2 separate regions of the Homo sapiens genome follow, and region 2 is linked to region 1. The links come from fine-mapping of genetic effects on gene expression. A gene starts in region 1. The other region holds a variant in brackets. All regions are shown on one strand. Distances are between the middles of the regions. Region 1 holds the start of PALM (paralemmin). Region 2 overlaps FSTL3 (follistatin like 3).

Region 1 (5,360 bases):
CGAGTGAATAAATTACGCCTGCACTTCTCAAACCACCTTCCCATGCAATGCTGTCGTCCCAGCTACTTGGGAGGCTGAGGCAGGGAAGTCGCTTGAGCCCAGGAGTTCGAGACTGGCCTGGGCAACATGGAAAAAAGAAAGAAACCACCTTCCCATGTTCCGCCACCTCCTGGACAGTATCTGTCTATTCCTTGCCTTCAAAACCACTCCAGTGTAAATCAAATCGCCTTGTTTTAGAAAGAAACATTATATTGTGATCAACACTGGGCAAACCAGAAGCCACCGCCACAAACAAGACAGCGGAAACATGGAGGAAGAAACAGATACAACGGAAGTAAAAGCTTGTTATTAAATTCAATTATCACTAGGTACTGTTGCCTTTTAACAGGCTCTGCCTCTCATTAAAAAGGGGGATTAGCAAGTGTGAAGGAGCGTTAAGGACCCAGTTAGCACCCAACGGAGACTTTCCTATTGAAAATTTCCAGGTCTGCGAGCAGGGAGGAGTCTGGGCCGGTCTTGACCATCTGTCCAGGCCCAAGTCTGTTCTCCTCCCTATCCCGGGGGTTTGAGCCTTGCCTGTACCCAGGACAGGGCTGTGGGTGCTGGAGAATGGCTGCTCCAGGCCAAAATATCTTTATTTTACCAGCCAGACCATGTGTCACGCAGGGGCCACACAAACCCTCCCAGAGCACAGAGATTCTCTCCGAAGCAGAGATTCTCCCCAGCTCCTTCCTGGACGTTCTCCTCACCTTGGCAGCATCGGCCCTGTGGTTAGCAACCCGCTAGTTCTCCTTAAATCCTCACATTAACAAAAAATAACCTGTTCTTGAATGACATTTAAAATTCTTTAAATTCTTAAATTCATTTGTGAAACTTTCCAGCGAGACGGGCACCACCACAAACCACAGCCAGCTCCCGTGTCTTCGACTGGAAAATCTGTGGAAACGGGAGGAGGCAAGCGATCACGTTCTAGCGGACGGGGCCTTCGTGCCTGAAGCCCGCCGGGGAGAAGAACGAGGGGGCAGGTGTCCAAGGCCGGGCGGCACCAGATGGGCCTGTCCCCACCCATTGTCAGCCCGGGAACCGGGGAGAGAGTCGTCCTCGAATGGCGGCTCACAGCAGCCGGTTAACACTGGGTGCCTGTCCCATGTCTGCATCCCCAAAAGCAATGATGACCCAATGGGGGACCTGTGGGCCACCCTCTGACCCAGGACGGAGAAACCGTGGAGCAGAGCAGGAGGCACCGAGGCCCCCCGGCCCCAGGTGCTGTGTGATGGAGGGGGGGTGGGGGGGGGGCAGCAGCTCCTCTCTGGGCCTCAGTATCCCCCGTGGGAAAGGAAGGGGTGGCAGGAAGGAAACAATGGGCCCGACCCGGAGTGTTCGCTGACACCCCTCCTCTGGGAGGGAGATCTCCGTCGTCCTCCTAGGCAGCCCCCTCCCCACAGCCACACCCTGCCCAGGCCTGGCTGTCAGAGGCCCAGAGGCTCCTCCGGGGCCTGGCGAGCAGGGCAGATAAACAAGGCTGGGGGGTGGGGGTGTGGAGCAGGCAAGTCTGGGCCCTGGCTCCCCTGAGCCCCTGGCTGAGCTCCCGGGGCGGGGTGACGGGGAGAGGGGTCAGGCCTTTGTCTGGGTTTTCAAAAGCAGAGGACACTGGGTGTCTCGCTTTCCCAGGGAGGGAGGGAGGCAGCGGCCCCCACCCAGCCGCGGGCGTGGCGGGTCACGGGTGAATCCCCGGGGAAAGTTGGCGGCTTAGAAAACACGCCCAGTGGGAAGGGCAGGGGGCCACAGGCGGCCTCCAGATCCGGTCTTCGGTCCTCGGGCTGGGGTGGGGACCCGGGCCTCAGCAGGGCAGCTGGCTCCCCTGTCCTGAAGTGGGCAGGTGGGTGACCCCAGGAGGAGCCTCCTGACCCCTGCCCGTGCAGTGCCCACCTGTGGGAGTGAGGGGCAGAGGGGCACCCGAGCACCGGGAGGAGGGGACCGGTGTCCGAAATGACCACGCGCCCTCGCTCGGTGCCTCCACTGGCCACCCCCCCCCCACACACACAGGCGCAGCCATGCGGGGGTCCAGGGATCCCAGCCCAGGGCCAGCCCACTCCTGTAGCTACACCAGTGGAGCCCCAGCTCCGAGACACTTCCCCGAGAGGGTATCCCACCCAGGCGCCCCGCTGGAAAACGCCGGTTCCTCTCCCTTCTCACACACCCCAGAGACCCGGGAAGCCGAGGGCAGCCCCTCTCCCTCCAGCGGTAACTCGGGACCTGCGCAGTGGCGGGGGGCTCAGGACACCCCTGGAGGCCCTTGGGAAGGGCGGGGGTGGGGGGCACCGGCCCGCGCGCGCGTCCAGGGCGCCAGGAGCCGTGCGCTCAGACTGGGGCGGGGGAAGGGTGCGTGAGCGCGAGGCCGGACCGGTGCAATCTGGGGAGGGGTCGCTCCATCTCCCCGGGGCCACCCACAGGTGGCCGAGAGCCGAGGCTCGCCCTGGAGACGCGGGCGGGGCGCGGGCGGAGACGCGAGCCTCCCCCTCCCCGCGTCCTGGACTGGCCCGAGCCGCCGCTGCCCGGGTCCCCACGCGCCGGTGGGTGGGCAGCCGGGGTCCGGGAGCGGGGAGGCCTCCCGGCAGGCGCGGCCCAGCCCGAGTCTCTTCCCGGCTGCGCTGCGGCCCCAGCAGCCCCGCGCCGCCTCCTGCTCCTCGCGGGGGCAGCGACGCCCCCAATGGGGCGCGAGAGAGGGGGCCTCCCCCCTCCCCGGCTCCCGGAGCTCCGGGCCCCCAGCCCCGCGGCCCGAGCGCGCCTACTCACTCCATCTCCCCGCCGAGGTCCGGGTGGGTCCGCGGTGCCGGGCGGGGGCGGGCGCGGGTGGCGCGCGGGGGAGGGGAGGGGAGGGGGACGCGGCCTGGCGGGGGCCGGGGCGGGCTAAGGCCTGGCGGCCGGGGCTGCGCGGCGCGGGGGCGGCGGCACCGGCTCGGGCATCGCCCCGCGCAAAGCTGCTGTTTATTGTCCGGGCGGCGGCGGGCGCGGGGGGTGGGCTGGGCGCGCGCGTCTCCGGCGCGCTCCCCTCTCCCTCCCGCCCGCCCCGCTCCCCGCCCCGCTCCCCTCCCACCTCCCCGCGCTGCGAGCGGGCGCTGCGCCTCCTGCCGGCTGCGCCGCCGCCGCCCCCCGCCCCGCGCGCCCCGCCCCGGGGCACCCCTGAGAAGGGCCTAGGTCTGGGCGCGGTGCTGGGACCCGGCTGTCACCAAGTCCCGCCCCTCCCCAGCTCCTGGGCCAGAGCCGGGACCCTCGCGAAGTCAGACAAGCAAAGGCCTTTCTCGAGAGCCCAGACGCCGAGAGGGACACACATTTCAGGGCGAGCGAGGGGATAGGGGGGTCCTGGGGAGGCCGCTGCGAGGAGCTGACAGCTCCCTGCACCCCCGGCCCCGCTCGCAGGGTCCCCAGGCCTCCTTTGCCGGAGTATCTGGTGGAGGGCGCTGTGCCTGCAAAGGCCGGGGGTTGGGGTGGAGACAACCGCAGGTGCTGATCTGTCTGTGCCCTGGCTGGGAGCTGAGCCTGGTCCCCGGGGCTGGAATTTAATCGGCCCCAGGGCCCCCATGGCACACTCACTAAAGGCCCAGCGACCAGACGACCAGAGTGAGTGAGAGGGACGGTGGAGAATCAGGGAGAGCTCAGGCTTTGTCCTCAGAGCACTGGGGAGCCACAGCAGGAGACAGGCAGGACCTGTCTTCCCCAACATGTAGGCCTTGGGCCCAGCTTCCTGGTTTCCCGTGAGAACACTGCAGACCAGCCCCAGCACACCTACTCATGGGGGTCCAGGGTGGGCAGGAAGGAAAGATTCTTCCAAACTTCTTAGTTTTCTTATAAAACGGTTCTCCTCTGCCGATGTTTGCTGAATGGCTGTAGATTTAAAGGAAAGTAGCCCCGGATGAGCTGTGGAGAAAGATACGGCAGGATGTACCCCAGGCTGAAGAAGGCCGTCAACACCTTTTCTTTATTCCTCCCTTTTTACAATGAATGTGTATTCATTTTAGCATTTAAGACAATAAGATAAATTAGCAAAGGTTAACAAAGCTAAGATCCTAAAGAATATCAGGGGTCCCGGGTCTGTCTGATTCCCAGCTCACCCATCTCCAAGCTGTGTGACCCTGGGTCTGTTTCTCAACCTCTCGGAGCCTTATTCCCCCCCACCCCCCTGCCCCCACCCTTAAGGCTGTGGGAGGGTTAACTGAGTGAGCACACACAAAGGGCTTGGCACAGGGCCCAGCACACACTAGCTCAGGGTTTGGCAAACTTTTTCTGTAAAGGGCCAGAGAGTAAATATTTTCAGCATTGCAGGCCACAGTCTCTGCGGCAATGACTCTGCTCTGCCATCGCAGAGTGAAAGTAGCCAGAGACAATATGTAAAACCATGGGCATGGCTCTGTGCCCATAAAACTTTATTTACAAAAACAGGCAGTGGGCCAGAGCTTATCCCAGGGCCGTAGTGTACTGACCCCTGCACTAGGCACCCAATAAAACTTTATTTACAAAAACAGGCAGAGGGCCAGAGCTGATCCGAGGGCCGTAGTGTACTGACCCCTGCACTAGGCACCCAATAAAACTGACCTGTGAGTCGTTTCTTCACTTCCCCTTGGCCTCTGTGTTCTTTTAGTCCAAAGTGATTTATTGAACACCTACTGTGTGCCTGGCACCGTTAGTCACCTGTGATGCAGAAGTTCCATTTTTGCGGCCAGGCGCCGTGGCTCACGCCTATAATCCCAGCACTTTGGGAGGCTGAGGCTGGTGGATCACGAGGTCAAAAGTTTGAGACCAGGCCGGGCGCGGTGGCTCACGCCTGTAATCCCAGCACTTTGGGAGGCTGAGGCTGGTGGATCATGAGGTCAAAAGTTAGAGACCAGCCTGGCCAACATGGCAAAACCACTTCTTTTTTTGGCTGGGGTGGACGGAGTTTCGCTCTTGTTGCCCAGGCTGGAGTGCAATGGCGCGATCTCGGCTCACTGCAACCTCCGTCTACCAGGTTCAAGCAATTCTCCTGCCTCAGCCTCCCTAGTAGCTGGGATTACAGGTGTGAGCCACCACGCTCGGCCAGTGAAACTCCTTCTCTACTAAAAATACAAAACTTAGCTGGGCATGGTGGTGCGCGCCTGTAATCCCAGCTACTGGGGAGGCTGAGGCAGGAGAATGGCTGGAACCCGGGAGGCAGAAGTTGCAGTGAGCAGAGATCGCGCCACTGCACTCCAGCCTGGGTGACAGAACAAGACTCCATCTCAACAAAACAAAACAAAACAAAACAAAAAAGAAGTTCTGTCCTTGGAGAGACGGTGATTTTTGTCCCCTACATAAATGATTCAGGGTGAATGAAGTGACTGTTA
Region 2 (5,360 bases), 26 kb after region 1:
AGACTTGAAGGAATCCTTAGAAGATCTGAGGAAACACACGCAAGGCAGAGAGACCTGTTAGTAGAGGGCTGCCGCGTACAGCTGTGTAGGTTGTGCACTGCCCAAAACACTGCAGACTCGAATGTTCACACAGGCAGCATCCAGCGCAGGGCAGGAACAGGTCTCCAGGCTATACAAAGGCCGTGGAGCACTGAGGAGGCTCAGCGGGGAGGGCAGAGAAGTGGGTGGGGGCTGGGTCCTCAGGGCCTGGAGGGGAGAAATGAATTTACTTTTTCCTTGGAGAGCAGTAGGGAGCCACAGAGGGTTCTGAGGCAGGGAGGGCCGTGGTGAGATGTGCCTGCAGCAGCTCCCAGAGGCCCTGACCTCACCTCTCCTTTCACTCCAGGCCGACTCCGGAGGGCCCCTGGTGTGCAGGAACCGGGCTCACGGCCTCGTTTCCTTCTCGGGCCTCTGGTGCGGCGACCCCAAGACCCCCGACGTGTACACGCAGGTGTCCGCCTTTGTGGCCTGGATCTGGGACGTGGTTCGGCGGAGCAGTCCCCAGCCCGGCCCCCTGCCTGGGACCACCAGGCCCCCAGGAGAAGCCGCCTGAGCCACAACCTTGCGGCATGCAAATGAGATGGCCGCTCCAGGCCTGGAATGTTCCGTGGCTGGGCCCCACGGGAAGCCTGATGTTCAGGGTTGGGGTGGGACGGGCAGCGGTGGGGCACACCCATTCCACATGCAAAGGGCAGAAGCAAACCCAGTAAAATGTTAACTGACTTCCAGCCTCACCCGTGGGCGGTCAGCTGCAGGGTCCACCGGCATTCGTGTCGCGGCTCGGTCCGCAGCCCCTTTCCACCTTCCCATGCCCCCCACCGTGAACCCCTCTGGGTCTACCCCTGCGCCCCTGCAACCCACACTCCTGCAGCCTCCCACCTGGAATGCCGTTCCTCCACCTCCCTCCAGCCGCCTAACCACACCGCAGGCGAGTCCGCTGGGAAACGGAGGCCAGGAAGCCCTGAGCTCCCTGTGCAGGGCGTGGGGGCTGCTGGACACCAGGGCGGGCTTGCACCGGCCGCGCCGAGGAGTCCCAAGAGGGTCTGGCCACACATCAAGCCTCGTGGTCATCCTCTGAAAACCAGAGAATAGCGCGGGGTGCACAGCAAGTCCCAGGTGATGTTATTGTCACAGTTTGTTATTGTGTTATTATTTTTTTATTTTTAGATTTTATTTTCTTTATTATTATTTTATTTTTTTATCTTTACTTATTTTTATTTTGGATGGAGTCTCGCTCTGTCCCCCAGGCTGGAGTGCAGTGGTGCGATCTCGGCTCACTGCAAGTTCCGCCTCCCGGGTTCACACCATTCTCCCGCTTCAGCCTCCCAAGTAGCTGGGACTACAGGCGCCCGCCACCACACCCGGCTAATTCTTTGTATTTTTAGTAGAAACGGGGTTTCACCGTGTCAGCCAGGATGGTCTCGATCTCCTGATCTCGTGATCCACCCACCTCGGCCTCCCAGAGTGCTGGGATTACAGGCGTGAGCCACCGCGCCCGGCCTATTATTTTTTTAAGATGACGTCTCACTCTGTCACCAGGCTGGAGTGCAGTGGCGCAATCTCGGCTCATTGCAACCTCTGCCCCTGGGTTCAAGCCATTCTCCTGCCTCAGCCTCCCAACTAGCTGGGACTACAGGCATGTACCACCACACCCGGCTAATTTTTTGTATTTTTAGTAGAGATGGGGTTTCACCATGTTGGCCAGGATGGTCTCGATCTCTTGACCTCGTGATCCGCTAGCCTTGGCCTCCTAAAGTGCTGGGATTACAGGCGCGGGTGAGCCACCGCGCTGGGCCTTTTTGTTGTTGTTGTTGTTATTATTATTATTATTATTATTATTTTGAGACAGAGTCTCACTCCGTCACCCAGGCTGGAGTCCAGTGGTGCGATCTCGGCTCACTGCAACCTCTGCCTCCCAGGTTCAAGCGATTCTCCTGCCTCACCCTCCCAAGTAGCTGGGACTACAGGTGCATGACACCACACCTGGCTAATTTTTTTTTTTTTTTTTTTGAGATGGGGTCTTGCTCTGTCCCCCAGGCTGGAGTTTAGTGGCACGATCTCGGCTCACCGAGATTGGAGTTTCACCATGTTGGCCAGGTCGGTCTCGAACTCCTGACCTCATGATTCACCTGCCTCGGCCTCCCAAAGTGCTGGGATTACAGGCATGAACCACCACGCCCGGCCAATTATGCTATTATTATTATTTTAGAAACAGTCTCACTCTGTCACCCAGGCTGGAGTGCAGTGGTGCCAACACAGCTCACTGCAGCCTTGACATCCTGGGCTCAAGCCATCTTCCCACCTCCGCCTCCTGAGTAGCTGGGACCACAGGAGCATGCCACCATGCCTGGGTCTTTTTTTTTTTTTTTTTTTTTTTTGTAGAGATGAGGGTCTCACTATGTTGCCCAGGCTGGTCTGGAACTCCTGGCCTCAAGTGACCCGCCCGCCTTGGCCTCCCAAAGCGCCGAGATTATAGGGGTGAGCTACCCCACCCGGGCCCTAATCCTGTTATTTTTATTACTGCTATCGTTACACCCAAGTCATTCAAGACC[G/A]GGCCTCCATTTCTGGGTCCCAAGCCAGCTGGTGTCTTAGGGCTGCCCTAAGCCATCTTGTCTATCCTGTGTGCCCTCCCAAAAGACCTCCTTTCTCTCCCTCCCCTCCCGCTCTGCCTCAGCCCCTCCCGGGCTTGTCCACTGCCTGGAGAGGCACTGAGGCCCAGAGGCGGCCAGAGGCTGCCCAAGGACTAATGCTGGGTCTCTCTTCCCGTGCCTCCAGAGCACCCATGCGGCACCCCAGGCCCCAGGCTGCCCATCCCACAGCCGTGGGGGCGGCCTGAAGCCTTGAGAGAGGAGACAAACTGAGGCCTGGACACCCCAAAATGGCTTGAGTCTTTATTTCCTTGGTGAGGCAGGGCCCCAGGGTGGGGTGGGCTGCCTGGCTGAGGCTCCTGTAGACCCACCAACCTAGGGGCACTTTTCTGGGCACCACAGGTAAGGCACTGCCTGGGGGCTGGAGGAGGCTGGAGGAGGATGCCCAAGCTCCCCACATTCCTCACCCCAGACCGGGGAAGCTGGATATCCTCCGTGTTGTCCTCTCCCCATAGCTGGTCTGAGGCTGTGGTTTACACGCAGGCACAGGTAGGCGATTCTGAGCATCAACGCAGATGGAGGGGAGGGTGAGCCGTCGTGGGAGAACTGGCCCAAGACCAGCACCTGGCTGGTGTCGCCAGCCCCGGCTGCATTGGTGGGTGAGGCAGGTCTGGCTGGAGTCTGGGTCTGCAGGCCTGGCCGGGGCAGGTTGTGGGGGACCAAGGAGCCCTGGGTGTGAACCCCACTGTGGAGGCAGCAGGCACCTAGTGGTGCCACTGGGACACCCGGCTCCAGGACTCCGGATGTCACACATGCGTGAGTCTTGGCGTCTACACCCCCCTCGGGGCCAGTGGGTGAGCAGTGGCCCGTGGTCCCCGCCAGAGCTCCCCCAGAGTGGACTTGGCTCCGCCGGACACAGTGCCCTGCTCTGAGCTGCCGCTGGCTGCTCCACGTCTGAGACCACGCGACGTTGCCTCATGAACTGACGTGGACAGCAGCAGGGGAGACGCTGGGTGGTTCTGTGGCCAAGCACAGCCCGTGTCAGGAGCACAGGCCGTGCCCTTTCCCAGGGGGCACACTGGGCATTTCTCAATGGCCTTCACAGGACGCAAAGGGGCACACAGAGGCAGTGGGGAAGCTGGAGTTCTTGGGCTGGCAGGGAATGGTGGCAGCCTTCTTGGCCTTCATGAAGGGCCTGGCTTGCTGGGCTAAGGTCACAGTGTTCTGAGGTCCCCACACGCACTCAGACTAGACCCTCCGTACACACCCAGGCTAGACCCTCCATACTCACCCAGGCTAGACCCTCCATACACACCCAGGCTAGACCCTCCATACTCACCCAGGCTAGACCCTCCATACACACCCAGGCTAGACCCTCCATACTCACCCAGGCTAGACCCTCCATACTCACCCAGGCTAGATCCTCCATACACACCCAGGCTAGACCCTCCGTACTCACCCAGGCTAGACCCTCCGTACTCACCCAGGCTAGACCCTCCGTACTCACCCAGGCTAGACCCTCCGTACACACCCAGGCTAGACCCTCCGTACACACCCAGACTAGAGGCTTGGGGCTGAGAAAAGCAGTCATGCCTCTTCAGGAATTACCAGCAGAGAATGCCCAGCCCTCTTGATAGTAGCAATAATTAATAGGTTTATCCCCAAAGGAGCGGAAGTGTGGAATCCTCCCCGGCAATAGGTCTTAGGGTAGGGGCTGGGGCATCCTAGAGAAGGGCCCTAAATCAGGCGCTCAGTGTCCGGAACGCAGGTCTATCCCACCCACCAGCCGGCCCCCAGGCCTCCCTTCCTCAGTCCTTCCAGGATATCGTCAGGGAGGTTCTGGGATCCCCAAGTGGTCCGAATCCGGGCTCTAAGGAGTGTCCGTGGCATATAAATTAGACTCTGCTGTGGCAATAAATAACAGGGGATGATGGGGGGCCTCGGGCACCAGGCCCAGGCCTGTCCTGCAGGCTCACACGAAGTTCTCTTCCTCTTCTGCAGACTCACCACCTGGCGGCTCCTCAGGGGTGCCTGCAAGGGTCGATAAGAGCATTGAGGGCGCAGGGCAGGGGGTTCTCCGGCCCCCAGGACAGGCCTGTGCCCCCGCCCTGCGTCTGCACCTGCGCAGCTGCCCGCGTGGCGCACGCCGATGGAGCGGCCCAGGAAGCAGGTGGCCTGGCGCATGTGGCACGAGGAGATGTAGGTGACGTTGTTGTTGCCGCAAAGCTCCTGGCCGGGGCTGGAGGGCACAGGGCAGGGCGCCGCTCGACACACCACGCAGTGGGCGCTGCCCGTCTGGTCCACGACGCACGACTGTGGCCGCGGGCACACCACGTGCTCACAGGACTCTGCAGGCCGGGTGCCAGGGGAAGTTCAGGGGACATCTCGCTGAGAACCCCGCAGGGCTCTTGGCCCCAAGACCCACCCTTAACCCCCAAGATGCGAAAACCCTCTGGTAGGAGACACAAGCACCCCCCCGCCCCCCGTGAGCCCCCCTCTCCATTCCACCCCTCAGGCTCCACCCACAAGCCCTGCCCTTCCCATTGTACCCAGGAGCCACACCTCTTTCGTGAGCTCCTGCCCCTTATGCTACCCAAAGCCCCGCCCCTCCGCGACTGCGGGGCCGCCCACCCAAACTCCACCCACAAATCCCCGCCCATCTCCACCCAGGAACCACGCCCCAGCCAAGAGCCCCGCCCCTTACATGACCCAGTCTCACCCCCCTGGTTCCAT

What was found. PIP is the estimated chance that this variant, and not a neighbour inherited with it, causes the effect.
Region 2: its variant is fine-mapped to the expression of PALM in adrenal gland (GTEx, PIP above 0.99).

What each region holds. Positions count from the first base shown.
Region 1 is chr19:706,588-711,947 of GRCh38, reverse strand. PALM (paralemmin) reads right to left here and starts at 3,013. Exons shown (of 9, transcript NM_002579.3): 1 at 2,797-3,013. The coding sequence starts at 2,801. RefSeq lists a silencer at 3,767-4,003 and an enhancer at 3,456-4,016.
Region 2 is chr19:680,948-686,307 of GRCh38, reverse strand. It overlaps FSTL3 (follistatin like 3), which reads right to left. Exons shown (of 5, transcript NM_005860.3): 4 at 4,748-4,975; 5 at 2,923-4,658. The coding sequence ends at 4,600. It overlaps PRSS57 (serine protease 57), which reads left to right. Exons shown (of 5, transcript NM_001308209.2): 5 at 386-762. The coding sequence ends at 592. Among named protein-coding and RNA genes, the nearest start is that of FSTL3, 7.2 kb to the right of the region's middle. RefSeq lists enhancers at 4,277-4,825, 4,826-5,360 and a silencer at 5,196-5,295. The variant G/A (reference allele first, on the strand shown) is at 2,592.